Linked DNA regions of Homo sapiens. The protein of the gene in region 4 purifies or fractionates together with the protein of the main gene of each other region. This does not show direct contact. Each region holds a gene or a part of one and is shown on either strand. Other genes may lie near its edges. The genes, in order: SPPL2B, DLK1, TMEM43, BRI3, HTR1E and KCNK16.

Region 1 (4,478 bases), on a different chromosome or scaffold from region 4:
ATTCGCCTCCTCTCCTGGGACCCTCACTCGAGGCTCGGGTCAGGCTGGGGGCGCCTGCTGGCTCCCCCTCTGCAGCTGACAGCCTCCGGCCCCCCAGGAGGACCCAAGAACAGGGAGGCCGAAGGGCATCAAGCCTTCTTCACCTGACAACAGGGCCCCAGGCCTAAAAGCGCCACTAATCCCTCCCTCGGCCGTGGGACTCCCGAACCGCACATACAAGTCCTGAGTGATACTTGTCACAGCCCATGCCTGCCCACTAAGCCGCCTTGAGCCCCGCACCCACTGAGGGCCTCTCTCAACTACGACGGCAGCGTGTGCGGACAGGGATGGCACTCTCGGCTCTGCCCGGCCTGCTCTGCCCTCGGCCCTGAGCCCCTGCACCAGGCCTCCGTGGATTGCCAGGCTCAGGGTGCAACACTGGCGGGGGCAGCCCAGAGCCACAGGCAGAGCTGTGAGGGAATTCCTGAACTCCATTCCTTCTTACTCCAAAACTACACTTCAGGGGCGGCCACGCACCCTGCCCAGCCCAGCAGTCGGCATGTCCCTGTGCTGTGACCAGCCCTGCCAGGCCCCCAGCTCTCAACCACAGCCCCATTTCACAGAAGATGGAAAAGGGGCCAGGCTTCAGGCCACCTGGCTAGGACCACAGGCGAGCACGGCCCCACCGGCTAGAGGGCAAGGGCACCAGGGTACCCAGAAAGGACCAGCTCAGGGCCAGGCCACCTGCTCCTCAGAAGCCACCCCAATCCCATCCCCACAGAGAGTGTGGTCTCCGTCACCCCTGGGGGCTGCTCTAGGACAGGCACCCAACAAGACCACGGCCAAAGTTCCACAGCCCCAGCCAGCAGCTCAGGAAGAACAGACTCATCTCCGCCCTCCCCACGGCCACACTCGGCCCGGATCCTCCCCATGTTCACACTCGGCCCAGATCCTCCCCACAGATGGATCTGCCTTTAGCGAGAAGTCGGAAGACCAGCCCCAGCTGCTGCCATCTCTGCCTCCTGCACCCCCCTCCTGCCCCTGAGAGCTGGCCCAGCGGGGGACGCACAGGGCCGTACCAGCCTCTCCCTGCTGACGATGAGCAGCCCGCGTGCTCCGCTGCCCTGGGCCAGCCTCACTTTCTCATAGAAGGTGCAGTTCCCCCGCGCCACCAGCGGGATCTGGTTGCTGAAGCCACGGGCGGGGAGGTCGGCTGCGGAGCAGAGCAGGGAGGCCGTCCAGTTGCGCAGCTGCAGGAAAGACTGGAAAGGCCAGGGCACAGTGTTGTCTCACGTGATGTGAGTCACCAGGAGGGCCCAGCTGCCCGTTCTCCCACCTGAAGCCTGCGCTGAGTTAGATCCCAGCCCTCACCTAAAGCCCCGCACGGCCTCGGCCCACCTAGGCAGAGCCATCCCTACTGCAGCTCCCACAGCCGGACCCTGGGCGACGGGCTGGGCTGCCTCATCTGAGCGGGGCCGGAGTCCTCACAGACATGGCTGTCCCCTGATACCTGAGCCACCCCGCGAGCCGTCACAGATCACTCAGCAAGACCAAGTGGGTCCCCACCGCAGCCCCACCACGGCCAGGCATCTGTGAGAAGGGGGAGGGTTTCCAGTGTGCAGAGAACAAAGCCCCAACTCTCAGGGGCCTCACAGCCCCTGAAGCCAAGACACACACGCACACACACACGCACACGCACACACACACCCACAGCCAGGCCGGAACACGCGCACACACAAGCACACGTCCACAGCCAGGCTGGAGCACACGGCACACACATGCATACATGCACACACACACACACACCCACAGCCAGACCAGTGCACACGCACACACCCACAGCCAGGCTGGAGTGCACACACACACACACGCACATAGCCGCAGCCAGGCCAGCGCGCACACACACACACACCCACAGCCAGGCTGGAGTGCATGCACACACACGTGCACACATACACAGCCAGGCCGGACCACATGGCACACATATGCACACGCAAGCACACACATGCACACTCACACTCAAGCAGACACATGCCTATTACACACATGCACACACACACGCACACACAGCCAGGCCAGAGCACACAGCACACGTGTGCATATACAAGCACATACCTGTGCACTCAAGCTCACGCACACACACCTATTACACACACATGCATACACACACGCCACATGAACTCACACACTCACACGCACATACCTATTACACATGCACTCACACACACTCATGCACACACACGAACCCAAACACACAGGCACATACACATCCACACACAAACCTATTATCCACATGTACACACACATACACACAGACCTATTACACATGTACACACGCACACATGTGCAGACACATGCACACATCCACAAACATAACTATTATGTAGCTACATGCTTACACACACCTGCACACATACAGACACACATGCACTCACACATCCATACACAAAACTATTGCATGCACACTCACAGGCACATGTGCACATAAAAACAGACATACACATTCAGACCCATGCACATGCCCCCACACACCTATTACACACATGCTCACACACACAGGTGTGCTGACACACAAACACGCACTAAGGCACACATGTCCATGCACATATCTAGTACACATGTGCTCACACACACAAACTCAGAAATATGCACTCAGGCACATGTCTTCACACATACCTATTACATGTGTTCACATACCTATTACATGTGTTGACACACACCTATGTGTTCACACACAAAAAAACACTCAGGCACATGCACACATACACTGATGCAAACTCACATAAACATGCAGACACATGAGCATGTCCAGGCACATACTGATTACACACGTGCTCACACGCACACACTATGCATAAAGCTGACAGGAAGATGCTAGTGCCTCTTCGCCGGCACACCTCGAGGGCTCCAGGAGGGGGCGGGACACAGTGGGAAAGGAGGCGGGGCCTGAGGGACTCAGTGGGAAAGGAGGCGGGGCCTGAGGGATGCGGTGGGAAAGGAGAGAGGGCCTGAGGGATACGGTGGGAAAGGAGGCAGGGCCTGAGGGATGGGGTGGGAAAGGAGGCGGGGCCTGAAGGATGCAGTGGGAAAGGAGGCAGGGACAGAGGGGTGTGGTGGGAAAGGAGGCGGGGCCAGAGGGATGCAGTGGAAAAGGAGGCAGGGCCTGAGGGATGAAGTGAGAAAGGAGGCGGGGCCTGAGGGATGCAGTGGGAAAGGAGGCGGGGCCTGAAGGATGCAATGAGAAAGGAGGCGGGGCCTGAAGCATGCAGTGGGAAAGGAGGCGGGGCCTGAAGCATGCAGTGGGAAAGAAGGCGGGGCCTGAAGGATGCAGTGAGAAAGGAGGCGGGGCCTGAAGGATGCAGTGGGAAATGAGGCGGGGCCTGAAGGATGCAGTGGGAAAGGAGGCGGGGCCTGAAGGATGCAGTGGGAAAGGAGGCGGGGCCTGAAGGATGCAGTGGGAAAGGAGGCGGGGCCTGAAGGATGCAGTGGAAAGGAGGCGGGGCCTGAGGGATGCGGTGGGAAAGGAGGCGGGGCATGAGGACTAAGTGGGAAAGGAGGTGGGGCCTCTGAGGGAGGGACTCATCCAGCAGCAGGTGTTAGTGCCCCAGTCAGGAAGACGGTGAAAGGAACAGGTCTCGTCCCTGGGGCCCCACTGTGCCCTCTGCTGTTACTCCTCTGAGGACCCCTCTGTCTGGGCCCACTGGATAGGGTCCCCGGCATGGAGCAGTAGAGACCCTTATCTACCACATGGAGCTCGGCCGGTGCCTCTGGATCTGCACCCCAAGGCCGCATGGACAGCTTGCATTGATGACCAGGGTTGGGGAGGCCCAGGGGAACTGGGGGCCAGCTAAGAGTCCCCCAGACCTGGTCAGGGCCTGCCTCTCGCCTCTGGATCTTTCCTGCAACCCCAGCCGGATGTGTCTCTAGAGCCCCGGGGCCCCCGCATTCTCCTCCGCAGCGGCGCCCGGCCAGCGGGTACTCACTGCCTTGCTGAGGTCGTGCGGAAGATGGGCCCACTGCGGGTTGTAGAGGATGCAGTAGTCTTTGCCTTCGGGGCCCCCGGCCTGGGAGACCACGTGCACCATGCCGTACTCACAGGCCACCTGCAGGACAAGGCCAGCAGTCAGAGCCACAGCACGGGACGTGCGGGGCTGCACCGCCCCACGAGAAACAGGCCCGAGGAGGGGAGGACGCCTCCAGGAAGGGCGCCCATGTTCACCAGGTGGTCTGGGATGCTTCCCCCTCTCGACAGGACAGACAGGGACGTGACCATACGTGGTTTACAGCAAAGACCCAGACTGGCTCACCTTCCTCAGGGAGCCCCAGGCTGGTGACCATGAGTGTGTCAGGTCACCCCTTTGTGGCTCCCGAGTTTCTGCACCAAAAAACAGGGATCGCACCACCTCCTGGGCCTCCCAGGATCAGTGGGCACGGTGGGAGAATGACAGCCACGGGCAGAGCCACGGGCAGAGCCCTGAGCAGGGAAGCAGGGCAGGGCC
Region 2 (4,963 bases), on a different chromosome or scaffold from region 4:
CAGACACTTGTGCTTCTCTGATCCTCAGTTTCCCTATCTGTACCGTCTTTACTAATGTTGGGGACTGAGGGACAGGGGCCCTGAGGGCAGGCTGCTACACAGCTGGGAGTTTTTTTGTGGACTTCAGTTTGCTCAAACGTTAGGGCTGGTTTTGCCAAATGAAAATGGGCTTAGACGAACATTTCGCAGCCTGAAAATGCAGTGACAGCCAACTCTCAATTGCTTGGGGTAATGGAGGCAAAGATTGCATAAATTAATGAAATCAACAGATAACACCCATCTTCACTTTAACCCTTTCTCAGCTTTTCCCAACTGCAGCCTCCCCCTACACCTGACCCACTCAGTCCAGGCCCCCCAGCCCTGTCCTCCTGGCCCTGACTCAGCACCTGCCCCTCAACCACTGAGCAGTGCTGGCCACCCCCCACCCCGTTTGTTTGTTTGCAGCCTCTTTACAGTCTTGCGTGTGCTTTTCTAGGGAGTCTTAGCTCTGAGATCCCCAGAGCCCTGTCCATCACTGGGCTTCCATGACCTGGACAGGCAGCCTGGGGTCTGTGGTCCCACCGGCCCAGCTGTATGTGTATTTTGTGACTCTTTATTCAACAGGCAGCTCCCTGGCCCCCACGCCATGTTCCCTCTAGGTGCTGGGTGCTGATGGCGCAGAGAAGAGCAAAATAAAGTCCCTACCTCTGAGGAGGCATTCGGTACCCACAGGAAATTTATAAACAGATCTTTAGAATACAGGGCACGGAGTGTGCAGGAATGAGGAAGTGAGGAACACCAGCAACAGGAGACTGGGAGGAGGTGGTAGGGGCTAGGGCAGGCAGGTAAGGACGCAGAGCTGAGGTGAACAAAGGCGAGTGCCAACCTCTATCACAGAGCTCCCCGTCCCAGCCGTCGGTGCAAATGCACTGCCCGGGTTCTCCACAGAGTCCGTGAAGGCAGCCGGGAGAGGTCACGCACTGGTCACAAAGGGGACCCTGCCAGCCAGGCTGGCACCTGCAATGGGTGGGGGAGAAAGGTGGGGACATATGAAGAGGGCAGGGGTAGAGAGGCAGCTCAGGCTACTTTCTGTGGAACCAAGGACCCTTGGGGGTCTTTGCACAGTGGCAGCCGGTGGTCCTGGGAAGTAAACACCAGCCACCTGAATGGGAAAACTTAAAGAGAAAACATGCCAAGCTGAGGGGGCCGACTTGGAGGGGCCCCGAGATCCCGGGGGAGTGCTGCGTTTTGCCGCAGTGGCCTGCAGTGGTCCCACCTGCCCCCCCACCTCTGAGAACGCAGACAGGAGCTGTGGCTGCCCCCCCCCCGCCCCCCCCATCTCCCCAGCTCGCCCCACCAGTTTTCTGCAGGGGCCCGGAAGCTGTTTGCTGCAGCGTAGTGGCCAAGCCCCCTATTTTTTTCTGCCTGACTTCACGACTCCCCAGGCTTCTGCGTGGCCCCTACAAGCTGCCTCTGAGGAGCCACTCTATTACCTGCAAACATTGTCATCCTCGCAGAATCCATTTTGGGGGTTGCAGGCCGGGAAGCATTCAGCCCCTGAGGTACAAGAAAGGTTATACAATTCACCCCACCAGGCCCCAGGCCAAGGCAAAGGCTGTCTTCGCCCACACAGCCCACCACTGCCCTCGAGGGCACCAACAGCCCTCTTGGGTCCTACCAGCCTGGCACACAGTAGGCACTTCCTATCCGAGCATGGATGGGGCTCAGTGCACTCAGGAAAAACATCTCTGCCACGTTCCCAGCAATGAAATGACCACAGTACACTCTCCCTCGTTCTTAGGAGCAGGAGAAACACCTTCTCCTCGGACTCCCAAAAGCAAATACGACACCTCAAGTCCTCCTAACAGCGGGGACGGGGACCGTGGAGGGAAATATGTTGAGCCCTGGGCATGCAGCCTGACCGTCACTTTTGCAACCTGAGCTGAAAAGAGGAGCAGATTTTGAGGTGTTCAACTCCGGGAAAGCCCAGACAGGTTCACCTGGTGGGCGCCCCAGTAAGGCGTCTGCATTCTTTTTAAGGTTCATCCCTATTAAGCCGGGCACCCAGGTCAAATCTTCCCTCTTTCCCCTACCCCAGACTCTTCGCATTAAAAAAACGATGACGACACAGGGTTTTGCTTAGCGGGCTGAGGTTGCAACAACACTGCTTAGAGATTCTGACACTTTAACAGGCACCTACTGTGTGCATTTACTCAACCAGCTCCCCAGCTTTCTAGACAGCCCCCTTACAACCACTGGTGCAATGAGTGGGGGGGCGCTGCAGGAAGGGGGCAACTCTCTCGCTGTCAGAGACAGATGGCCGCTGCAGACAGAAGTGTCGCAGCCCCTCACCTACAGAAACGCGCCACGCAGGAAGGGCTCAGGCTGGGCTTCTCTGGGAATTGGGGGCTAAGACGGCAAAGTCGTCCCCCACTCCCGCCCCGAGACCTGTTCCAGAACGCTCACACAGGGACACCCCAAAGTTGCACCCCAGAGTATTTTCATAGAAGACTCCACAACAGCACCCCATTTTTCCATACCTCCTTGCTCAGCGCACCGACACCCCTCTGGCGCCACTTCTGCAGGGCGGGAAGGGGCTGGGGGTCTCACACATCCCCTGCGCCCTGGGACCCCTGGGACGGGCCTTGGCATGCGAGCGTGGTGGGTAGGGCGAGACAGGCACAGCGCGGGGCTTAGGGCTAGGCGGGACGGGCGGAGTTGGGGCTCACGAGACGGGGCGTGCGGGGCACCGGGCGGCCGGCGGGGAGTCGCAGGCTTCCCCAGAGGGGGCGCGAGCCGGGCCGCCGGGGAACTCACCATAGGTGCTGTGGCCGAAAGCCAGCAGGAGCAAGAGGACGCGCAGGAGGGCTTCGGTCGCGGTCATCTCTGGGCGGCCGGGGTCGCGGTCCCGGGAGCGGTGCGGGCGCGGGTCCGGCTCCTGGCGCCGCACTGGGCTTCTGGTTGCGGACGCGAAAGGGGGCGCGGGCGCGCAGCGAGGGGAAAGCCAGGGCTGCACCGGGCTGCGCGCTGCGCTCTCCACCGCCGCTGCCGGGGAGCTGCCGCCGCCGCCGCGCGCGCCGCCCTTTTCGTACCGCCTCCCCCCTCGCGGCCCCCGCCCCCCGCCCCCGCCTCCGTGCGCACGGGGCCGGCGCCGGCCAGTCCCTGTGACCCCCTCCCCTCGCAGGGCCGCCCCCGACCACGGCGGCGTCCCAGAAGCCCGCTCGCGCACACGGGTGCACTCTTGGCTAGACGGGCACAGGTATCCCGCGAGCGTTTGGTACACGTTCCCTCACACTGTACAGCACGCGGCCGCCGCGCACATACAGGCCTGCCTAGGACAAGTCGCAGGAATCGAACCTGGGCCGCAGACCTCCCCGGAGAGCACAAATCCGCACGCAGGAACACCGAAACACTTATCGCTGAAGTCCCGGGCACACGTGCAATGGTTAGATACCCAGGAAAACACAAAGGCGCACTATGAAGATGTGAACTAAGCACATAATTACACACGCACACAGAAAAACCCCCAGGAAAAGCCCGACGCCCCCTGTACCCCTGGCCATGAAGACGCAGAAAAATGCAGTTGCCCCGTGGCAACCCACACCCCGCAACGGAAACGCACACGGCAACTCAAACACACTGTAGCCCAGACGCCGTATAGACACAGTCCTAGGTGGCAGAGGGTCAAGCGGACCTGCGGTTACCCAACCATGGGCATCCTCCCCCATGTGCCGACCCCCTGCACACAGACGCTTACGCAGAGCCACCTGCACACCCAAACACGCAAACACACGTATAAACAGACGGACACCCGTGCCCGCATTCAGTCACACCCACCCCCGCACACACAGCATCTCAGTCAGGGCCTTAGCCGCGCTGAAACACAAATGCACCGACTCTTACGCACACATGTACGCACAGCCATGCACCTGATACCCACAAGCACACATACCCAGCTGACTCGTGGTCACACACACTGACAAAAACATATACGCAGTCCCCACACACACACGATCGCATCTGTCTTTGTCCACAGTGGCATGCATGGGCAGCCTCACCAATGTGCTCTCACATACACACAATAGCACTCCAGGCACTCGGCACGTATTCCAGACTCACTGGGAGACCTTCTCTGAGGGGTCGCCCGCTGGAGAGGTGGAGGTAGAGGATGCTGATTGCCAGAGACCCTCTTCCTCTGCAGAGCTCCCAGGGAGAGGGAGTGCTCCTCAGACACCCCTCCTCCCCATTGCCCCCGGCTTAGGCTTAGAGCCCTGCTGGAGAGGAAAGCTCTGCACCCCTGCACCCAGTCTGGATGGGGGAGGCTCAGAAAGATAGGGAGGGAGAGGGGTAGGAGGGGATTAAAGATATTTCACCTCCTGGGGGAAGGGTCCCAGGCGTCCCAATCTTTGGGTGGGTCGTTTAGGATACTTAATTTGCATATATTAATTTGCATACATATCCTAGATGCAGGGAGTGGGTGCCCACCCAGCTCGCGGCCTCCCCTTCTTCACAGTGCTGCAGGGGGGTGTGATCTCACCACTGTGAACCTGGAGGCTGGATGCTTTGACCTCCTGGCCCTCTAGTCCAGCCCTGGCAGGTCTGAGCACAGATTTCCCATCTTAGCCATAGATGTGGGAAGGCAGGCCCATGGGCATCCCCAGGCCCACCACCCCTAAGTCAGTGCTCCAGTAAGGCACTCGGGATGGGTACAGGGATGGACAGAGACCAGAGCTGCTCTGGGCTGGCTCCAAGGAGGCTGGAGGGAAACTCCCAGCCCCTGGTGGAAGATATCCCTTCCCTGATGTTATCTGCAGAATGCCCAGATAGGTAGGGGCTGCTGGGAACGGCTTTGGGGACAGGCTGTAGGGAGCAGTTGGGGTGCCCACTGTGTGCCTGCCACATGCCCTTGCATTCCTGTGACCCTACTTTCTTCCGTGGACTCTTTCCTCAAGTCAAGAAACCAACTTCAGTGATGGAAGGTCCT
Region 3 (4,478 bases), on a different chromosome or scaffold from region 4:
TGTGGAGGTGGGAGAAGAGCCTGAGGGGCGTAGCCGAGGCATCCTGGACCTGGGCCTGGGCCAGCTACTCCGTTCCTCACTCTCCCTGCTTCTCTTCCACCCCCAGGTGGGAGACTTGCGTGTCTCCTTTTCCTATGCTGGACTGAGCGGCGATGACCCTGACCTGGGCCCAGCTCACGTGGTAACCTGGCTTCCCAGGGGCAGACACTAAGTCAGAGCCTCACGACTTTCCTGGACACAGACACCTTGGTCAATGTCAGGAGCGCTTGGACCCCCTTTTCCCTGGGGAAAGGCACACTCTCGCACACACTCTCAGCCAGGCACGCTTCTGAGCAGTTTCAGAGCTCCCATGTCCCCACAGCCATCCATGGACCCCACGTTAAGAAGGGCAGCTCAAAAGGGGTCTCATAGTCGCACCTTATGACAGGTGTTCCAGTCACACACAGACCCTCTCCCCAAGCCCGTTTTGATCTGTCAATAATTGGTCTTGCGTTCCTGGCCTATGTGCAGTCCTGCCCCATCCCCTGCTCTGCGCACTGCCCAAGAGCTTTGAATGCCTGGAGCTTTGAATGGAGCAGCTCAGCCAGAGCTGCAGAGGTGGATGCATCCCAGATGGATGTATAGAGAGAGAAGCCCCAGGGTTTCTGTGCTCACTTCCCCAGCCGGCACCCAGTCCCGGGAGGGTGGGCCATGGCTCTCGTGGGCGTGTCTCCCGCTGGTCACCCCTCAGCTCTAACACCAGGTCCTCTGACCAGGTCACTGTGATTGCCCGGCAGCGGGGTGACCAGCTAGTCCCATTCTCCACCAAGTCTGGGGATACCTTACTGCTCCTGCACCACGGGGACTTCTCAGCAGAGGTGAGTGCTGTGCCCTACTCGTACGGTGGAGGAACAAGCATGTCCTTCCTTCCTTCCAGTGGTTATTTAATAAGATCACACTACCAGGGGTCATAGCCAGTGAATGAGGCAAGAAGAAGAAATAGCGGAATGTTGAGTATGCCTCATCAAAGTGTTTGACCAGGAGTGTTTCAGATTCCAGATTTTTTTGGATTTGCAGGTATTTGTATATACATAATGAGATCTCTTGGGGATGAGAACCAAGTCTAAACACAGAATCTATTTATGTTTCATGTATACTTTGTACACATCGCCTGAAGGTGATTTTATACAATGCAACCCGTCACATGGGGTCAAGTGTGGGATTTCCACTAGTGGCGTCATGTTGGCATTCAGAAAGTTTTGGATTTTGGAGCACTTCAGCATTTGGGTTTTTGGATTGTGGATGCTGAGTCTGTCATGAACCCTCAGTGTGCAGGACTGTGCTAGGCACTAAACTCACTGTGCCTCACAGACTGTCCGGTAGAGGAGTGAGAGTGACAGAAACTCGTAAGTACTGATGCATCGTGCCGAGTGTTGGAAAGAGGAGAACAGGTGCTCTGATACCAGTGGACGTCAGAGTAGAACATCCGTTTCTGCAGTGATCAAGCAGGGCCTCTGACAAGTGAGTTTTGCTGACGAGAAGGGGTTAACCCTAGAAGAATCAGTGATCAGTCAGTTCCAGCAAGAACAGCCCAGTCTGGGCACGAAAGGGTTCACCTTCTAAGGGGGCACCCGGAGTGCTGTGGCCACAGCCCAGAGCGGGGAGAGGGAGTGGGTGGGGGGGCTCCACCAAAGTCTGTGTCCTTCCAGAACATTAGGAGGGCGGGGAAGGGTTTTGGGCCTCAGCTACCTGAGTATCCCTCTCCCATTGTAAATAGGGAGGGCTATGCCTACCCCGGGTCCCAAGGAGAAGGGGTGCCAAGATGTGCTGATTAGTTCAGTTCTGTGCCTTAAAAGTTAGCCTGTCTTCTCTAGGCAGGCAATCCTTCTCTGCAGCAGAAGAATTGAGTCTTTAGTTTTTCTGTTGTTGATGAACACAGGTATCCCTGGTGGGGCACTCTATACCTGCCCTAACCAGGACTGCTGGGGTTTTCATTCCAGAGTGGCCAGAAAGGGTCAAGGCAGCAGACAGGCATCAGGGGTTAGCTGTGACCTTTTGTTCCTATTATTAGATCCTCAGCAGCCATCTGTCCCATTAGCCTCCAGCTTGTGGTGGTGCTTGGGCCTCACCAACTCCTGGTACCTGGCCAGGGCTAGGGTGTGGTCAGGCTGTTGCCCAGGAGCCCAGTTACCAACCTCAGGGTAGGGCTGCCACCTCCCAGCCTAGAAGGCCATGAGTCACCCTTCCACCAGCAGCTGAGGGTCCCCAGCGAGTTTCTAAAATTAGGAGGCCCAGTCCAGGCCTTGCTCTCTCTCCCAGGGCTGAGGCCCAGCTCACGCAGCCGCCCCTCCAGAGAGGAGTGGATGGGGCCCATGGCTTAGGTAATGCCCCAGAAAGGAAGGCCCTGCAGTGCAGATGCTCAGGCGGCCTCCTTACCCCCTGGGTCTCCTGCTGCTTAGCAGCCCCAAAGCCCTGTCTTCCCCCAGCCCAGCCCCCACCCCCACACAAGGTCTGGGGTCTCTGCCAAGTAGAAAAAAGGCCCAGAGCCAGGCAGGCAGCTCAGGGCAAAAGTCAGGATGCCCCGATTCCAGTCCCAGGGGCAGGAGAGTACAGCTGCCCAAGCAGGCACACTGCAGACGGCCCTGGCACTGCCTCCCACCTGCTACAGGACCTTGAGCTGGTGCTGATCTCTCAGCCTGTTTCCTCATTTGTGAAGGGGAAGATGTTTAAGTACTATTAGTAATAGTCACATCATCCCTAACTGGTTTGGTCATTGAGGATTATTCATTCATTCAGCAAGTTTTCATTGAACACCAGGTACTTCACAGACATGCTCCCTGCTCTTGGAAATGTAGCGTTTAGTTAACTGCTTGAGGTGAGACCTTGGGCACATGACTTATTCTCTCAGAGCCTCAGTTTCATCATCTGTAAAGTGGAGGTAAGTATTCCTACCTCACTGAGTGAATTTGAGAATTAAATAATACTTGTAAAACACTTAGGACAGTATCAAATAAATGGTGAGTGATAAATGTGACCTGTTTTTGTTGTTACGGACTCTGAGAGAGGGCCCGATTCAGATCAGAGGGTCAGGGAAAGCCCTCTGAAGAAATGGGGTTCAAGCAAAGCTCAAAAGAATATGTAGGAAGCTGGCCAGGCATGACTGCAGGCAATCGTTGTAGGCAGAGCAAACCCACGCGCAGATACACAGGCGAGAGGACACTTGACCTGGACTGGGGACAGCAGCCAGCAGGGTCAGGGCACTGGCAGCAGGGTCGGTGTCCGGGGGGTGTGGCAGGGCTCTGGCAGGTGACTGTGTGGAGAACACAGAGTGGGTGATAGAAGCAGGGCCAGTGAGGCTCCTGCGGGCAGACAGTGGTAAGAGACTCGGGAATATGTGGCCTGGACTGGATGGGGTGGTAGGGGAGGAGCGAGCCATGTCTTTCCCATAGATGTGAGTGGGTGGGTGGGTGTGCCATGTGCTGAGATGGAGAAGGCGCCAGTGTCAGCACTAGACAGGCTGAGATGTCAAGTGGAAATGTCAAGGAGGTGGTGGAGGTGGTGGGAGCTGCAGGGCTGTGAGGCCCGGGAGAGGGCCAGAGCTGCAGCTTTAAATTGGAGGGTCACGGCATGTGGAGGCCAAGGAAGCAGATGGGATGTCCGGGGAGAGAGTATGGACTGAAGCAGCTAAAGAATTGCAGCATCTAATGGACAGGAAGAGGGGCAGCGACAGCGATGGAGCCTGAGAAGGAGGGTGCAGTGTCCCCAAGCCATGTGGAGAGGTTCTGAGATTAAACAGATCACACACATAGCGCAGAGCATGCTGCCCAGCAGACATCCTCCAACCTGCTCAGGGGTGGTGGGCAGGGTCCTGCTCATTCCAGGTGAGACCGTGGGCTGAGGGCTCCAGGTGCTGGCAGGCTCTGAGCTGAGGAAGGCCCGTACGTTCCACAGAGATCTCATGCCTTGCCCTGTGCTCTGCCAGATGGGCAGAAGGACTTAGCCCTATAGGAGGCTTGCCCCCACTCCGTCTGGCCTGTTCAGAAATGGCCAACAGCTCCCGAGTTGGTACAGCCCCCTCAGGACCTGCCCTGCCGACTGGGTACGCCACTGGCCCTCAGCATCCTGACCTGCCCCCACCTTGTCCTGCAGGAGGTGTTTCATAGAGAACTAAGGAGCAACTCCATGAAGACCTGGGGCCTGCGGGCAGCTGGCTGGATGGCCATGTTCATGGGCCTCAACCTTATGACACGGATCCTCTACACCTTGGGTAGGTGTTGGGGTGGGTCACTGCCCTCCCTCCTGCACCCTGAAAGGGCCTCCTCTGCCTGTCGCATCATCTCAGCCCTTCCAGCCTGATGGGATGGCCCTTGTGCAGATACCAGGCATTTGGCTCATCTCTGTGTCCCCGCTCCATAGCCTTGGGATGAGGGAGCAGAGGAAGGCAGGCTTGAGGGCAGGAGCTGCCAGGGGCCAGGCTGGGTGGGGCCAACTCTGGGGCA
Region 4 (4,478 bases):
TGCCTCTGCAGCTGCATTGGGCATGGGATGGGCCCCTGTGCCCTGTGGCAGCCAGAGGGCGAGCAGGGGGCTGGGTGCTCTGCTGCTGGCGTGGGTGGGGTGTGTGGTCCCTGGGCCACTCCTCTCTGCGAGGAGAGTGGAGACGGTTCCCTGAACACACAACACACACGTCTGGCCGCTGCCTGGCGTCTTGGCCCGGGAGACAGGATACCACTCACATGACCACACTTCCTCCTGCCCCAGGTCCAGCCCGCCGGGCTCTGTCCCCCTCCCTGCCTGGTGGCATGGCAGGAATTTGCCCAAGTCACACATCTGTTAGTCCTTCTGAGTGAGGCTTGGCCAGAGAAGCCCGTGTCCCTTGTGGCTCTGCTGCCCTGGCCAGGCCTTCGCTGAAGCTGCCTGACTCCATCTTCCCTTTCTAGCCGTTTATGAGGAAGCATTTCCGCAGCCTGGCGGCGGATATGTCCCTGCTCCTCCCACCCTCCTGCTTCACCCCTGCCCTGCCCTGCCCTGCCCTGCCTTGCCCTGCCCAAGGCCTGGGCCTCCCTGAAGCCAGGTTCTCCCTTGCCCAGGGAGGCCAGTCATTCTTTGCTGGGGGTGTGGTTGTACCTAGGTGCAGGATGAGGTAGCTGCGCTGGGAGGCTCTCCTGGGCTGGAGCAGAGCCTGCGTCCTGCAAGCGGGGAAGGCAGGAGTGGGGAAGGCCCCTGGCCTGCACCAGGCCCCCATGAGTACTGGCTGGGCTGTCACTGGGTATTTAGTTTTGGGGGTGACCAGAGAGAGAGGAAATCCTGGAAAGGATTTCACTTTTCCTAGGGAAGGTGAAAAGAACAGCTGTGGAGGGCGGATGTCGCTCAGAGGTCCAGGGTGCGGCTCAGTGGCCAGCGTGGAGGCTGCCACGGCCCTTGGGGGGCAGAGGTGGGCTGTGGAGGGCACGGGGTGGTGACTGTGGAGCCCGGGAGGGGCTGGAGGGGAAGGAGCCTGTGACAGCCTTGGGCTTCCAGACGATGGAGGTGGAGGGGCTGCTCCCTCCTACCACCTGTGACCTGGAAGCCAGAGCTCCCCTGGTTGAGGAAGTGGCTGAGTTAGCTGGGATGGCTCTGCCCATATGTATGGCCTGTGGGCTGTCCCCGTCCTGACAGTCTTGGCCTGAGGTGTGGGGGCAGCGGATGGGCCGGAGCTTGGGCCTGGGCTGCTTGCTGGGCAGGGCTGCAGACCTCGGTGCCCAAGTGCTCCCTCAGTGGCCTCCTGAGTCTCTGACCTTGGGCTCAGCCCCCAGCTGTGGGCCAAGTGGCACTGCTGGGGTGGGTGTGGTGGCAGGCAGAGTCTCCGGGCACCTTCTCAGGCCTTTCTTCCACAGGGGAGGCGAGGGCTGGCCCTGGCCATTGGGTTTGCTGGGAATGGCCCTGGGAGGTCCTGGTGAACTGTCCCTAAGCCAGGCAGCTCCCCTGTGGGGAGTGGACACCCTGGGACAGCCAGAGCCTGGCTGGAGCTGCTTTGGGGCCACCTCGCCCTGCGCTGAGCATGGCTTCAGGCCCTCAGCCCTCTGAGGAAGCCCTGCGTCTCCCCTTTTCCTGGCGAGGCCTGGCCTTCCAGCGGGGTGGTGGTCTGGGGTTGTTCCTGGGCGTGGATGGTGCCTTGAGGCCACCATGTGCGCAGAGGGCAGCTTGGTGCCCTAGGGCCAGCCCCCTGTGACACTGCCTTTGGGGGCTACCTGGGAGGGAGAACTGGGACCTGCAGGATGGGTGCTCGTGACTGGGGAGCCCATCTGGGTTCAGATCCCAGCCACGCCTTTCCCGGCTGGGAGTCCCTGGACACACCCTCAGCTTCAGCCTCCTGTAAAGTGCCTGTGGGGACACAGGGAGGGCGAGGATGGCCTTCTCCCTGGGCAGCTCAGAGCCCTGCTGCCAGCCCCCTCTGTCCTTGGTGAGGCGGGAGCCCCGCGGCCTCTACTGTCCCAGGGCCCAGCTCTGAGTGGATGACAGTGGCATGACTGGCCACTTTCACTGCAGGACTGGAGTCGCCTTAAGGGAGTGCTCTTGGAATTAGTCAGTTCCCTAATTTCGCCAGTGGCCATGGTCCCTCCCTGGCCGCGTGGCTTATTGCACAAGAATGGGGGAGGGGCGGCTAGAGAGAGCCGGTCAGGACCAGAGCGGTTGAGAAGGTTGAAACCCACCTCACCAACTCAGGTGGGCTCTTCCGGGTTTGGAAGGGAGGAGAACTCGAGGCTGTGGGGACCGCAGGTGTTCCGGGGCAGGGGTTCCCCTTCTGCCCTCCAGTGCTGGGGACAGGACTGCCCTGCAGCTTGGGGAGTCTTGACCTAGAATCTGGATTGTGTTTCTCAGTTCAGAAGATTTGGGGTTTTAAAAAGTAAATGATGCCAACACTCCTTTTGAGGTCTAGGGCAGTACTGCAGTTAAAACTTTAATATTTCTGCAGCAAGACATGAATATTCAGATAAAGTAGGATAAATTACGACTATAAATAGCCACACACCAGTTCAGGTCACATGTTGCTGCCAGGTGAGTTTGCTGTCAAGTGACAGCGAGTTCTGCCTTCAGCGCCTCTTGGCGTTTGAAGTTGTGGGTACGGCTGTGGAATCCTGGGGGGTAGGGAATGCTGCCCACCCTTAGGCTGACCCCAGAGCCAGAGGTGAGGGCCGAACTCTCCTGGCCAGCCCTCGGGCCTTCGAAGCCCGTTCAGAGCTCTCAGGCCCAAGTGCTCGTTCTCCCGGGCCGGGGTTCTCAGGTCTGGATCACAGCCTTCTGTTGCTGGCAGAGGCCTGAGCCTCCTGGGACAGCTGGATCTGTCCAGCTCCCGGGCGGCACTGCAGGGAAACAGGCTCGCTCTCCCCAGAGACCCGGGGGCCTTGGCCCTCCTACCCTCTCTTTAAGCGGTGTGGAGGTGGGCAGGAGGGTGGGGGTTGAATGGACCAGGGATAGGGAGGCTGCCTTAGGAGGTGCCGGAGTGGGTCCCTGGACTGAGGGGCTCAGGCCAGGGTGGCACAAACGGCCCAGCCCTGTGCTCTGGCTGAGGATGGGATGGGTCTGGACAGAAATTCCGTGGGTTGGAAGGAGGGTGTTTCCCTGTGCCTGGGAGGCCGTGGGGTCAGCACATTAGGTTTGGCCCATTGTGCTGCTTGCAGCCCCGGGGCTGGGAATCAAGGTGCTGGGAAGAGAGGCGCCGGGGCCTGGGTGGGCTGGGCTGGCGCTGCTGGAAATCCTAGCACTCAGGTGGGCCGGCGCCCTGGCCCGTGGCAGTGGGAGTGCAGCAAGAGTGAGCAGCCTTCCTGCACTTCTCAGCTCTGACAGAGTAGGTGGGTTTTGGGTCTGGATGGAGAATTAGGAAGCAGGAGGGCGCTGCTGCTCTTGGACTTGGGTCCCAGGCGCGAGCAGCAGCTGCAGGTGGGAGGCTGGTGTGGGCGGGGCCCCCAGGCAGCACTGTGAAGCCCCACCCCTGCCCATTGCACCATCACACCTGGATGTCTCTGCTGCGCCCCATGGGCGGGCTCCAGCCGGGCTCCCCACCCACACCCCTTTGCCCAGCCTCCTCCCAGGCATCTCTGGGCCTTTGAACAGGCAGTCAGCTCTGCCTGCAGCCCTGCCTCTCAGCAGCTTTGGTCCTGAGGTGAGGTGCTCAGATGGTCACTGATTGGGCTGGCTGAGGGGTGCCCGGTGACACTGGGGACCACTCTGGGGGGTGCGGGCCTCTCCCCTAGAAGGATTTCTCAGCCGGTTCACCCTCCCTGTCTGCTTTTTCATGGGACATTTTCTAACCAGAATATACAGCCAGTGTGTTTCCTGGGATTTGACCGCAGATGCCAGGAAGAAAAGGGAAGAGGAAGCTCCCCTGAGAGGCCTGAGGCCACTGGCTCCCTCCAGCTCCCCCGGAACCTGTCATGGCCATCTGTGGGGACACAGCTGGTGCTTGGCCTTCCCGAGGCTCCCCCACCTCGACTGTGTGGTCTTGGGAGCTGTGGCACCTGGGGGAGAAGGTCCTGGAGCCAGGCAGGGCGTGCTGCAGTCGGCAGGGCTGGGCGGAGGTGTCCTGCCCAGTCTGGACTGGCAGGGGCAGCCCTGGGCAAGGCTGAACAAGTGTGGTGGCCTGACGACCTTCTGGGGCTTAAATAGGGGACACATTTGTAAAAGCCCACACAGGAAGTAGAAACTTTCCTGGCAGACTCTGGTCTTCTGCTTGGCTTTGCCTTGGAGCTTCATGGTGTGCCCTGCAGCCCAGCTCAGCCCCTCCACACAGACAGGTGGCGTTGTGTGAGTTTGGGAAACACTGGGTATAAGAGTGCTGCAGGACTTCTCAGAGCCTTTTGAGAACGAATGGACATAGGGACTGTAGGAGAAAAGTTTCCCAAAATCGGCTGAACAATCCCCCTTTTCCAAATGCATACCACTGTGTCTGGCTAATTTTAAATTTTTGTAGGGAGGGGTCTTTGTTGCCCAGGCTGGTTTTGAACTGCTGGCTTTAA
Region 5 (4,478 bases), on a different chromosome or scaffold from region 4:
ATAATGATAAAAAGTATAGTACAGTAAATGTATAAACCAGTAACAGTTGTTTATTATCAAGTATTATATACTATACATAATTGTATGTGCTATACTTTTATACAACTGGCAGCACAGGTTTGCTTACACCAGCCTCATCACAAGCACATGAGCGATACATTGTGCTACAACAACATTGCAATAGCGATGATGTCACTAGGCTGTAGGAATTTTTCAGCTCCATTATAATTTGTGGGACCACTGTCATATATGTGGTTTGTGGGTGACCAAAATATTGTCAATGTGCTGCATGGCTGTCTATTATCTATTTTATCCTGGTAAGTCTGTTATTATCATCACTTTCATGAGAGAACTAAGGTATGAAACAAATAAATGGCTTTTCCAAGGTCACACACACAGCAAGGTGTAAAATTCACATCTCTTAATCATTGATTTGCTGTTCTTATATCACTATCTATAAAGTGGAACTGGATTCTCAGCATTAATAAAACTAATAAAATCTTGATATTGTATAGAGCTTTATATTTTACAAATTCTTTGACAGATTATCTAATTTCAGTCTGAGAACATTACTATGAGATAAAACCACGAGGTGATACTGAATTGAGTCTTTATCAAACAGCTTCTGATGTCTTATATTGTGGCAGGCAGTATCTCAGGTGGCTCTCAATGATTTGGTTCCTGTAGGTATTCCTCCCACTGTGTAATCCCTTCCCCTTGAATTAGGCTGAAACTAGTGACTTGTCTCTAATGAGGAACACAGCAGAAGCCATGGGATATCACTTCTGATATCAGGTTACAAAAAGACCTTGGCTTCTATTTTGCTATCTTTCAATCTTAGCCCTTGCTCCAAGGACAGCAAGCTGCAACATCTGCATGAAGCACTCTGTTTTGTTAGTAGCCCTATAGAGAGGTCCATGTGGTAGCAAAAGAACGTCTCCAGCCAGCAGCCAGCTGGGACCTGAGGCTTGTCAACAGCCACGTGAGCGAGCTTGGAAGCGTTACCTTTCCCCAGTTGAGCCTTGAGATGTCTGCAGTCTCGGCTGAAACTTTGCAGCCTGTGAGTGACAGACCTGAGCCAGAGGACCTAGCTAAGCCATACCCAGATTCCCAACCCATGGAACTATGATCATAGAGATAATAAAAATCTGTTGCTTTAAGCCATTAGGTTTTGGGGTAATTTATTATTTAGCAATAATGAATACACACATTTAATCCTCATAAATAGCCCTATGACATAGTACTGTTATGTGAGCCCCAACAAATGAGGAAACTGAGGTTTAGAGATGTGAAAGCAGTTAATGAATGGCAGAGCTGGGATATGAACCTGGCTTTCTGGACTCGAGAGCTTGGGCTTGAGCCCCATGCTGTGTTACCCCCTAGTAGTATAACACAAGGTGCAGTTTGACATCACAGGTGACAATGAATCACAATAGCATATTCTGTTTTGAGAAACTTCCCTGAAAGGAGGCTGAGGTAGACAGGGCATGTATTATTGTCCCCATTGTAACGATGACAGACCATGCAGCTCATACAGCCAAGAGAATGGGGTATTAACCCAGGCCTTCTGACCCCAGGTCCGTAGAGTTGGGCCTGTGCTTCACTGCCACGCTGGCACTGTGGCACTCACTGTACATTCAGCAAGCCCTGAGGAAGCTGGCGGGAGCTTAGCTGACATGCACAGGGTAGGTCAGTTTGTTCTCTGGAGAGCATTCCATGAGATGCAAATATCTTCACACAGGCCTGGGTTAATACCCCATCCTCTTGGCTGTGTGTAGACCCTCTCACCCTTAGATTCAGACTCATTTTACTAAACAGGCAAAACATAGCTACAAATTTCATGTATTTTAATATAACAGGACTATGTGGTAATAGTAACAATACTATGTAATCATTAACTGTTAATTAAATGCATGCTAATGGTACATAAGTCTGAGAAAGGGTACTCAGTACACTTAATGCAATGTGAGAGATTATCTCAAAGCCAATGGGACCCGGCTGGACATCTTTTGTGCTGGAGAAATTACTCCATCTGCATCACAAGAGCATTGCCTCTGTCACCAAGCTGAAAGTAATCAAGTCTTGTGAGCTTTGAGACTTTTGCTTCCTCTAAAGTCATTTTTCATCCCTTCTTGGTAAGATGCTTCATTTATATGTAAGTCACCAAACCCTGGGGTCAGTACAGTCTGGTTCTCCAATGCCTCGGACATAAAGTAAAACCTTGATGGTCTTAGAAACAGGCTTACTGTATTGCAGAGAGGGTGAGGAGATTACATTGTTTTACCAGTTTACAATCTATGAAATAAAATATGCTTGCCAATATGAATGCATCTTGTAAATGATGTATTTGCTAATTATAAATTAAGTTACATATTTAATCCTTGATTTTTTAGAGCATTGTGTAAGGAATTGAATTAGGTTCAGAAGGAAAGAATGGTAAGAAAGTTAAAATGGCTCAAATGAAAGCATAATAAAAGAGGAAATCATGCTTCTTTCTTTGAATGTTAAATTATGATGAACTATATGGTAGGATAGTGTTTATGGATGACTGTATATCAAATTCTTGTGTTAGGTAACAAATACTTCCTTGACTAGGGCAGAGTTCAACATTAAAATTAGGACTATGTAATAAAGTTTAAAATGTAAGGTACTTAAGTAAGTATACAATTCTTGTTTACTTACAGGAAAGAATTAATTACAATGACAAACTACACTGTCAGAAATCATATAAGGATAAATATTACTGAATTCAGAGGGATGAGTTTGGAATGTGGAATCCTTTTCTGTAGGTTCTTCTTCCTCCATCTTCCTCAGATGAGGTGGGCTTTCCTTTCCCATTTTTCTTGGATGCTAACAGCATCTTTTATACCTCTCAGGCATGTTTTCTGCCCAACAGTGTACAAGCGTAATATAAATCCCTATGATTATATTGTCGCTAACCAGGCAAGCTATTGTAGCTAGCCACCTTACTGGGTTCTCTTATTCTTTCTAATGGCATTTTTATGTATCCCCTTGAATTTTCCTAGTAGCTAATTATTTAATCTGTCATTAATAATAAAACTTTTCCCTGACCAATATTTATAACACTTCCCTCCTTCCCTCCTTCCCTTCCTTCCTTCCTTCCTTCCTTTCTTCTTTCCTTCCTTCATTCCTTCCTTCCTTGCTCCCTTCCTCCCTCCCTAATGGGGTCATTAGGAGGATCTGAGAGTTTTAGAACTGCTAGCTGCTGCTGCTGGTAGCTATTTCTCAAAATATTTTCTTCTTGCTATAAAATGCTTTCCTTCTCATACCAGATTTCATAAAGACCTTCCATCTGGTCTGCACTGATAACTAGAATCCAGAGATGCTCATTCCTCTTACAACTTGTAGTTTAAAATGATCCAGATGCAGAAGGATTAGGTTTCATAGCTTCTTCTAAAGGATTTTGTCTTCCTAATCCTACAACTGCATGTGTTGAGAATTGATCAGCATGAGAGAGTGCTAACAATAAACCTATTAAAGTGTCCAGTTTTTCATTTGACGTGTTTTAGGGGAATACAACAATGGGATCAAAACACTGACATCTATTCAGGTAAGGACTGCAGTAAACCAGATAATCCACAGTGCATGAGACAAAATAAGAGAACTAAAAATGAAAGACAAAATTATAGTCAATCTGTATTAGAAAGAGGGTTCTCAAGAATTTTATCAATTTGTTGTGATCCGGGAATATGCCAATTGATTGAGTGATCTCTATAAATTCTGGTTCTCAGTTTCTTAATCCACAAAATGTGGGAACGAATAAAAAGTAGCTGGGATTTTGATGAAAGTCCTTTCATCACCAGGAAGATGAACTTTGGTAAGTTGACTGACCTAAGCCCCAAATTTTAGGGGCCACAATACTGGTTCTAGAAAATGATTCAGGGAGGAGAAAACAAGAGAGAAGTAAGTCACTCTAAAGTGCTGCTGCCCCATTTCTCTTCCCTGTTCATCTGTCCCCTCGTCACTTGTGACGGCACACTCATCTTCAATGTTTCCCTGGGGTTTATGTTCATATAATTTCACATGTAATAAAAATCTGGTAGGTGCAGAAGAAAGGAGCATAAAGCATGAGATGCTAAACTCACCTCTGCCTTGAGATGGCCTTGATAATTTACGGCATAAAAAGTAAGTTCCTATTTGGTAGAAATTCAGCTTTTGATCAGTCTCAAGCTTATTTTTTTGTGTAAATAAGCTTGTAGAAATAGAGGGAATGCTTTCCCACATTAGAGCGTTAGATTTGATCTTTCACTTTTAAAGGGTAGTGCAGAAATAGAATTCCAGGGTGGGCAATCAAAACAAACATGAAAAAAATGATCTGTGTGTAAAAGTGAGATGTAGGGAATTAGACTTGAGTAATGAGAAGATGACACAAAAGTTCAGGGCCTGAGGCTTTCTGCAAAGAGACCTACTTTCTTTTTCTTTCTTTTCTTTTCTTTTTTTGAGACAAGGCCTTGCTC
Region 6 (5,010 bases), on a different chromosome or scaffold from region 4:
CTCTCTGGCTTCCCATGGGGTGTTTGGAAAGGCTCTTGAGAAGGCAGGAGCCCAGAGGGAGTGATGAAGTTAAGGGGGTGGCCTGTGAGGGTCAGGGGAGGCCATGTTCAGGAAAGTGGGTAGGACACCCAAGAGGTCCTAAGCTTTGTTCACAGACAGCCCTGGACTTCTAGGCAAGGGGAGCTGGCGAGCTTTGAGAGGCAGCTCGCCTGCCCCTCGGCTGAGAGCTTCCTGAGGGCAGAGATCCTCTTTTCACTAAGATTGTTCCAAAGTCTCTGCCCAGGTCTCCCCTCTCTTTGATGCTCCCTGCCAGCCATTCCCATGGGCTCTCATCAACCCTGGGGCTATTCCCATCATAGCATTTTGGGCACTGTGTTGGGGCTGCCTCTTTGCTTGCCTAGCAACTAAAGGCACATCAAGGGCAGGCACTTCCACTGCTGTATCCCCAGACCCTGGCACAGACCCTGGCACAGCACCTGGCACATAGTAGGGGCTTGGCAAATGCACTGTGCACATATCAAATGAGGCAAAAGTAAAGTCATCCTTTGTTTGTGTAAGGTCTCCTGGAAGGGGGCATGGGGAGGGCAGTGGAGATCTGGCCACTACCTTTGGGTGGAAGGCTGTGGCAGGGGCTCTGGGACAAGGGTACACCTCCCCATCCACACATGTCTTTAATCCTATCTCACGTCTCCTCTCTGTTACTTTCTTGGATATACCTGTCTCCTTTCTCTCTTGGGAGAGCTCCTGAGACCAGCCCTGGCTGAGAAGTGAGGGGGTTGGGAGAGGAGAAAGCAGGGCTGGAAATCCAGAGAGCAGATAGGGTGGGACTGGGGAGGATGAAAGGGGTTTCTGGGCCCCCCCCGGGGGCCTCATGCAGAGATGGGGATCTTCTGAGGCCTGGGGAGCCCACTGGGGTCAGAGGCTGCCCCATCCTTGACGCCGAGGCCCCTACTGAGCAGCCAGAGCTGGCAGCATCTGTGCAGAAGCAGGGGGCCCAGTGGGAGGATCAGCGCCAGCCACGCCAGGCCCAGGAGGATCCAGATGGCTGCCAGGCTCCGATACACTGAGATATAATGCTTGCTGGGGTCTGTGCCTGCCAGGGAAGGGAATGGCATCAATGCCAGGGGTCTCAGGGCATAGCCACCTCCAGTTTCCATAGGGACCCTCACCAGCCAGGATGCTCTCTCCCTCTTCCTCATAACAAGGAACAGCAGTTGAGGTAGGTCTCTGCAGGGTGGTGATGGGTCCTAGACCAGAAACTTCTGAGAATGTTGCTTAGAATCCACAGTAGTCCCAGAAATCATTGGTTTGGCTCCCTTGAATGACCAAGGGCTATCTTATCCTCAATAGTTGTCCTCAGCTGACATCTCTCCATCCCCCAAATCCCAGTGGGCACCCCCACCCTGAGATAATGTGACTGTTTTGTTCTCACCAACAACATAGTCCCCAAAGCCAATGGTGCTGAGAGTGATGAAAGCAAAGTAGAAGCCCTCGCTGAAGCTCCAGCCCTCCACATGGCTGAAGACCATGGGTGGGAAGATGAGAATGACCAGCGTCCCCAGGGTCAGGAACAGAGCCAGGCCCAGGACTTGCAGTACCTAGGAGGGAGGGAGTTGGCCTCTGAGTCCACTTGAAAGTCTCCAGGATTGTATGAGGTTGGGGGGAGTCTGGGGTAAACATGGGAATGGGACTGGGCCATAGCTAGGACCCTTTCCTGCACTGCAGACCCTCGAGGTGGAGGTTGTATCTATGTGTGCATGACCTTGTCCCACCCAGGGAAAGATTTCGGCAGAGGGATTGCGTTAGTGGGTCAAGAAGCGATTTGGAGACCCCTTTGGACTTGGGGATCACACTTGAACAGGCTCCCTGGGGACTCAGATCTGGAACAGAAAAGTATCATTGAACTGTCTGCGTATTTCTGGCCTTGCAAGTGGCTGGCCAAGGGTGGGCACTGAGGGCATGCTGGGCAGCCTGCAGAGCTTGTTTGCTACTGCACAAAAGGATGTTGGAGTTCTGTGATGACCTTGAAGATGTGCTACAGAGATCCCTCACTTAAAGGAGGACGGTGGGCCAGCTGCCAGCTCCTTCAGGGTGTTCAGCTGCAGAGAACCTCCTGGCCTAGGGGCATACCCTTCCTGGGAAGGCCACACCCAGTGCCTGATTGAGGCAGGTATGAAAACCTGGCTGGTTCCGCCCACTGTGGGACAACTCTGACAGCTCTCACATGCTGTAGAGCTCCTTGGGGCCAAGCCTTTGTAGAGCATGCATAGAGATCCAACTCCCCACTCTGCCCAACCCTGCCTTCACCCTTCCTCTTTCACAGGCATCTACCCCTAACACCATGCATGCCAAACTCCATCTCAGCATCGGCTTCTGGGGAACTCCACTTGCAACAGATCTGTCACAGCAGGCCTGTAAGGGAGTTAGGGGGCATACCTGGGAGCGCCTGGGACGGTCCTCCCATCTTTCAATGGCGGCCAGATGGGCACGCAGCCCTGTGCCCAGGTGGTTGAGGAAGATCACGTTAAGCGGGATGCCCAACAGGGCATAGAAGACACAGAAGACCTGACCTGCCTCTGTGCTGGGTGCCAGGTTCCCATATCCTGCAAGGGAAGGGGGGCGTGTGCAAATATGGAGACTCTAGAACGCCCTCTGCTCCTCTTCCCCAGACTCTAGCTGAGGTTTGTCTGTCACCACCTCTGGGGGTGAGAAGGGGAAGCTCCCCTGTTCCCATGAACTCTGCTGGAATGATTTTTATTTATAGGACTCCTGCTCATCTTTGAAGGCCCATCTCAAATGACTCTGCCTCCATGAAGCCCTCCTGACTGCCGATTTCCTTCTCCCTTCTGGGTGTGGTTCCCCATAGTGTTTTATGTCATTGCTATGTAATTATCGACTTTGTTTTCTATTACTTTTTTTTGTGTATTTATCATGTTCCTCTTTGTTGGACTGGAAGTTCCTTGCAGGCTGAGCCTGGGTCTGATCCAAGTTTGTATCTCTCACCCCCAACTCCATCACTCTGCCTGGAATGTCACCTGAGTTCAAGGAAAGTATGTGGAATTGGACTTAACTGAATGGATGGGGTAGACCTGGATCTGATGGTTTCCTTGGGGTGGGATGGAGTGAGTTTTCTGGCCGAGGGGGTGTAGCAGCTGCTGTCAGTGCCCTGTTCCCTCAGAACACATGAGATACCACCTGAAGCTTTGGTGGACAGTTCCTGTATACAAATCAACCCCCGCTCCCAGTTTCTGCACATCTCTCTCTACCTGAGAGATTCTTCTGGCCAAAGGAGTATGCTTGGTCTATGGGAAGTTTCAAAATGCTGGGGAACTAATATACTCGGGACCAGCTCTCAACCTTTGAGGGCAGGAGTTGGTAGCTAAATGGCCCCTCATTCTTGTCCCTCGCTGGACCGTTCTGAGGAAGGGCTCTATCTAGCCTCTCAGAGGGTCCCAAGGAGAAGTGAGCTCAGTCACCCAAGCCAGTAATCTGCTAATTAATGCAAATTTCATTGCCACCTTCTCCCTACTGTTTCACTTACCCACTCCCTCCCTGGGCTTCCTGAATAATCTCCTAGACAAACCACATCCTTGTCTCAGCATCTGCTTTTGGGGAGCCCAAACTAAGACAGGGGCCTTGGGGAAGCTCTTCTCTACCCCAGCCCTTTACCTATGGTAGTGACGACTGTGCCTGCAAAGAAGAAACTGCTGCCAAAGTCCCAGTTGCTGGGGTTGGTAGAGTTGCCTTTGGGGTTCACACCTTTCACCCAGGCTTCCATGATGACCTGTAGGGGGTGGCATGGCAGGGGAGGAAGAAGGAGCTGATGGTTACTGGGCACCAGTTGTTGCCATGCTTTTGGCAGCATGCTTTTGTGTCATCTCATCTAATGATACTCTTAGATGATATTGTTCCCATTTCATGGAAAAAGGAAATGAAGACTCAGAGTGGCTAAGTGACCTGTGCAAGGTGACTGGACTCCAACTCCAGTGTCTGTTCCACTGTCTGTTCCACTGGCCAGGGCTGACTGAGGTGTGGGCTGCAAGCATGGGCTGGGGCGGGAGATGGGCCTGAGGGGTGAGGTGGAGGATGCTCAGGGAGGGGTCCCGTGGGAGATGCTGCTGGTGGCCAAAAGGATGGCACCCACATCAGCTGTTAGAACAATGGGAGGATTTCAGGTTGGGTATGTCTGGAAGGGATTGCTGGGGAACACAGGGTTTAGGGACCACAGGGAAGCCATGGGCTGCCTGCTATGAAGCTAATGGTGGGAAAGAGAGCCCTGTGTTCCCTAAGTGTCCAGGCGAGTGGGCACCCTTGCTCTTTGCTGCTCTCTAGTGAGCCTCAGCCCTTGCCTATGGGAGAAATTCTAACAGAGGCCAAGACAAAGGTGGCACGTGTGAGTGTGTGTGTGTGTGTGTGTGTGTGTGTGGTGGTTGTTTATATGTGATGTGTTGTATGCACGTGTTGTGCATGGCAACTGTATGTTGCACATGTGTGCATGTTTGTATGTGTGTTGCATGTGTTTTCACAAGACCCGAACCTTTGCCGGCTCAAGCCTACAACACCTCCCTTCGCTGCCCCACTGCTGACAACCTCCAGTCCCTGGGCCCAGCCGCCTTGGAGAATAGGCAGGGCTCTCTCCTCCCCTGCCCCAACCCTCTCCTCTTTAATTGTGGACTGTCTCAGAGCAGCAGCACAGCCTTGCCACCGAAGAGCCCCAAAGGCAGGAGGAAGCCAGGGACACAACAGTTCTGGCTTCCAATTCCTATGGGAACCAGTTCCCGCTGGCTGGGTGGGTGTGCTTAGATCAGGGCTGGGGTGGCCCTGGTGGGCCAAGCCAGTCAGGGCATCTGCGGTCACAGGCTGTCTGCTTCTCCTCACTTTGACGGGAACTGGCCTCTTAAGATGTGGACTTTGGCCTCCCTTTCTTTCCCACATCCACAAAGTGGCCAGGGCCCAACATTCCCGAACATGCTCGTTCTCTGGAGACCCTCACTTCTGGGGGCAGTACTC

The links.
Region 1: the proteins of BRI3 (region 4) and SPPL2B purify together in Homo sapiens (co-immunoprecipitation; one large-scale study listed by IntAct). This does not show direct contact.
Region 2: the proteins of BRI3 (region 4) and DLK1 purify together in Homo sapiens (co-immunoprecipitation; one large-scale study listed by IntAct). This does not show direct contact.
Region 3: the proteins of BRI3 (region 4) and TMEM43 purify together in Homo sapiens (co-immunoprecipitation; one large-scale study listed by IntAct). This does not show direct contact.
Region 5: the proteins of BRI3 (region 4) and HTR1E purify together in Homo sapiens (co-immunoprecipitation; one large-scale study listed by IntAct). This does not show direct contact.
Region 6: the proteins of BRI3 (region 4) and KCNK16 purify together in Homo sapiens (co-immunoprecipitation; one large-scale study listed by IntAct). This does not show direct contact.

The regions. Positions count from the first base shown.
Region 1 is NC_000019.10:2,334,206-2,338,683, reverse strand, and holds part of SPPL2B (signal peptide peptidase-like 2B isoform 2 precursor), read right to left. Parts: intron 4,083-4,478; coding exon 3,963-4,082; intron 1,242-3,962; coding exon 1,059-1,241; intron 1,053-1,058; exon of another isoform or gene 1-1,052. UniProt on the Homo sapiens protein: Intramembrane-cleaving aspartic protease (I-CLiP) that cleaves type II membrane signal peptides in the hydrophobic plane of the membrane. Functions in ITM2B and TNF processing.
Region 2 is NC_000014.9:100,724,969-100,729,931, reverse strand, and holds the start of DLK1 (protein delta homolog 1 isoform 1 preproprotein), read right to left. Parts: upstream 3,041-4,963; 5' UTR 2,864-3,040; coding exon 2,797-2,863; intron 1,537-2,796; coding exon 1,473-1,536; intron 997-1,472; coding exon 866-996; intron 1-865. UniProt on the Homo sapiens protein: May have a role in neuroendocrine differentiation.
Region 3 is NC_000003.12:14,135,052-14,139,529, forward strand, and holds part of TMEM43 (transmembrane protein 43), read left to right. Parts: intron 1-106; coding exon 107-181; intron 182-755; coding exon 756-857; intron 858-4,128; coding exon 4,129-4,246; intron 4,247-4,478. UniProt on the Homo sapiens protein: May have an important role in maintaining nuclear envelope structure by organizing protein complexes at the inner nuclear membrane. Required for retaining emerin at the inner nuclear membrane.
Region 4 is NC_000007.14:98,284,354-98,288,831, forward strand, and holds part of BRI3 (membrane protein BRI3), read left to right. Parts: intron 1-4,478. UniProt on the Homo sapiens protein: Participates in tumor necrosis factor-alpha (TNF)-induced cell death. May be a target of Wnt/beta-catenin signaling in the liver.
Region 5 is NC_000006.12:86,940,519-86,944,996, reverse strand, and holds part of HTR1E (5-hydroxytryptamine receptor 1E), read right to left. Parts: intron 1-4,478. UniProt on the Homo sapiens protein: G-protein coupled receptor for 5-hydroxytryptamine (serotonin). Also functions as a receptor for various alkaloids and psychoactive substances.
Region 6 is NC_000006.12:39,315,350-39,320,359, forward strand, and holds the end of KCNK16 (potassium channel subfamily K member 16), read right to left. Parts: intron 3,785-5,010; coding exon 3,670-3,784; intron 2,604-3,669; coding exon 2,437-2,603; intron 1,599-2,436; coding exon 1,433-1,598; intron 1,094-1,432; coding exon 870-1,093; 3' UTR 822-869; downstream 1-821. UniProt on the Homo sapiens protein: K(+) channel that conducts voltage-dependent outward rectifying currents upon membrane depolarization. Voltage sensing is coupled to K(+) electrochemical gradient in an 'ion flux gating' mode where outward but not inward ion flow opens the gate.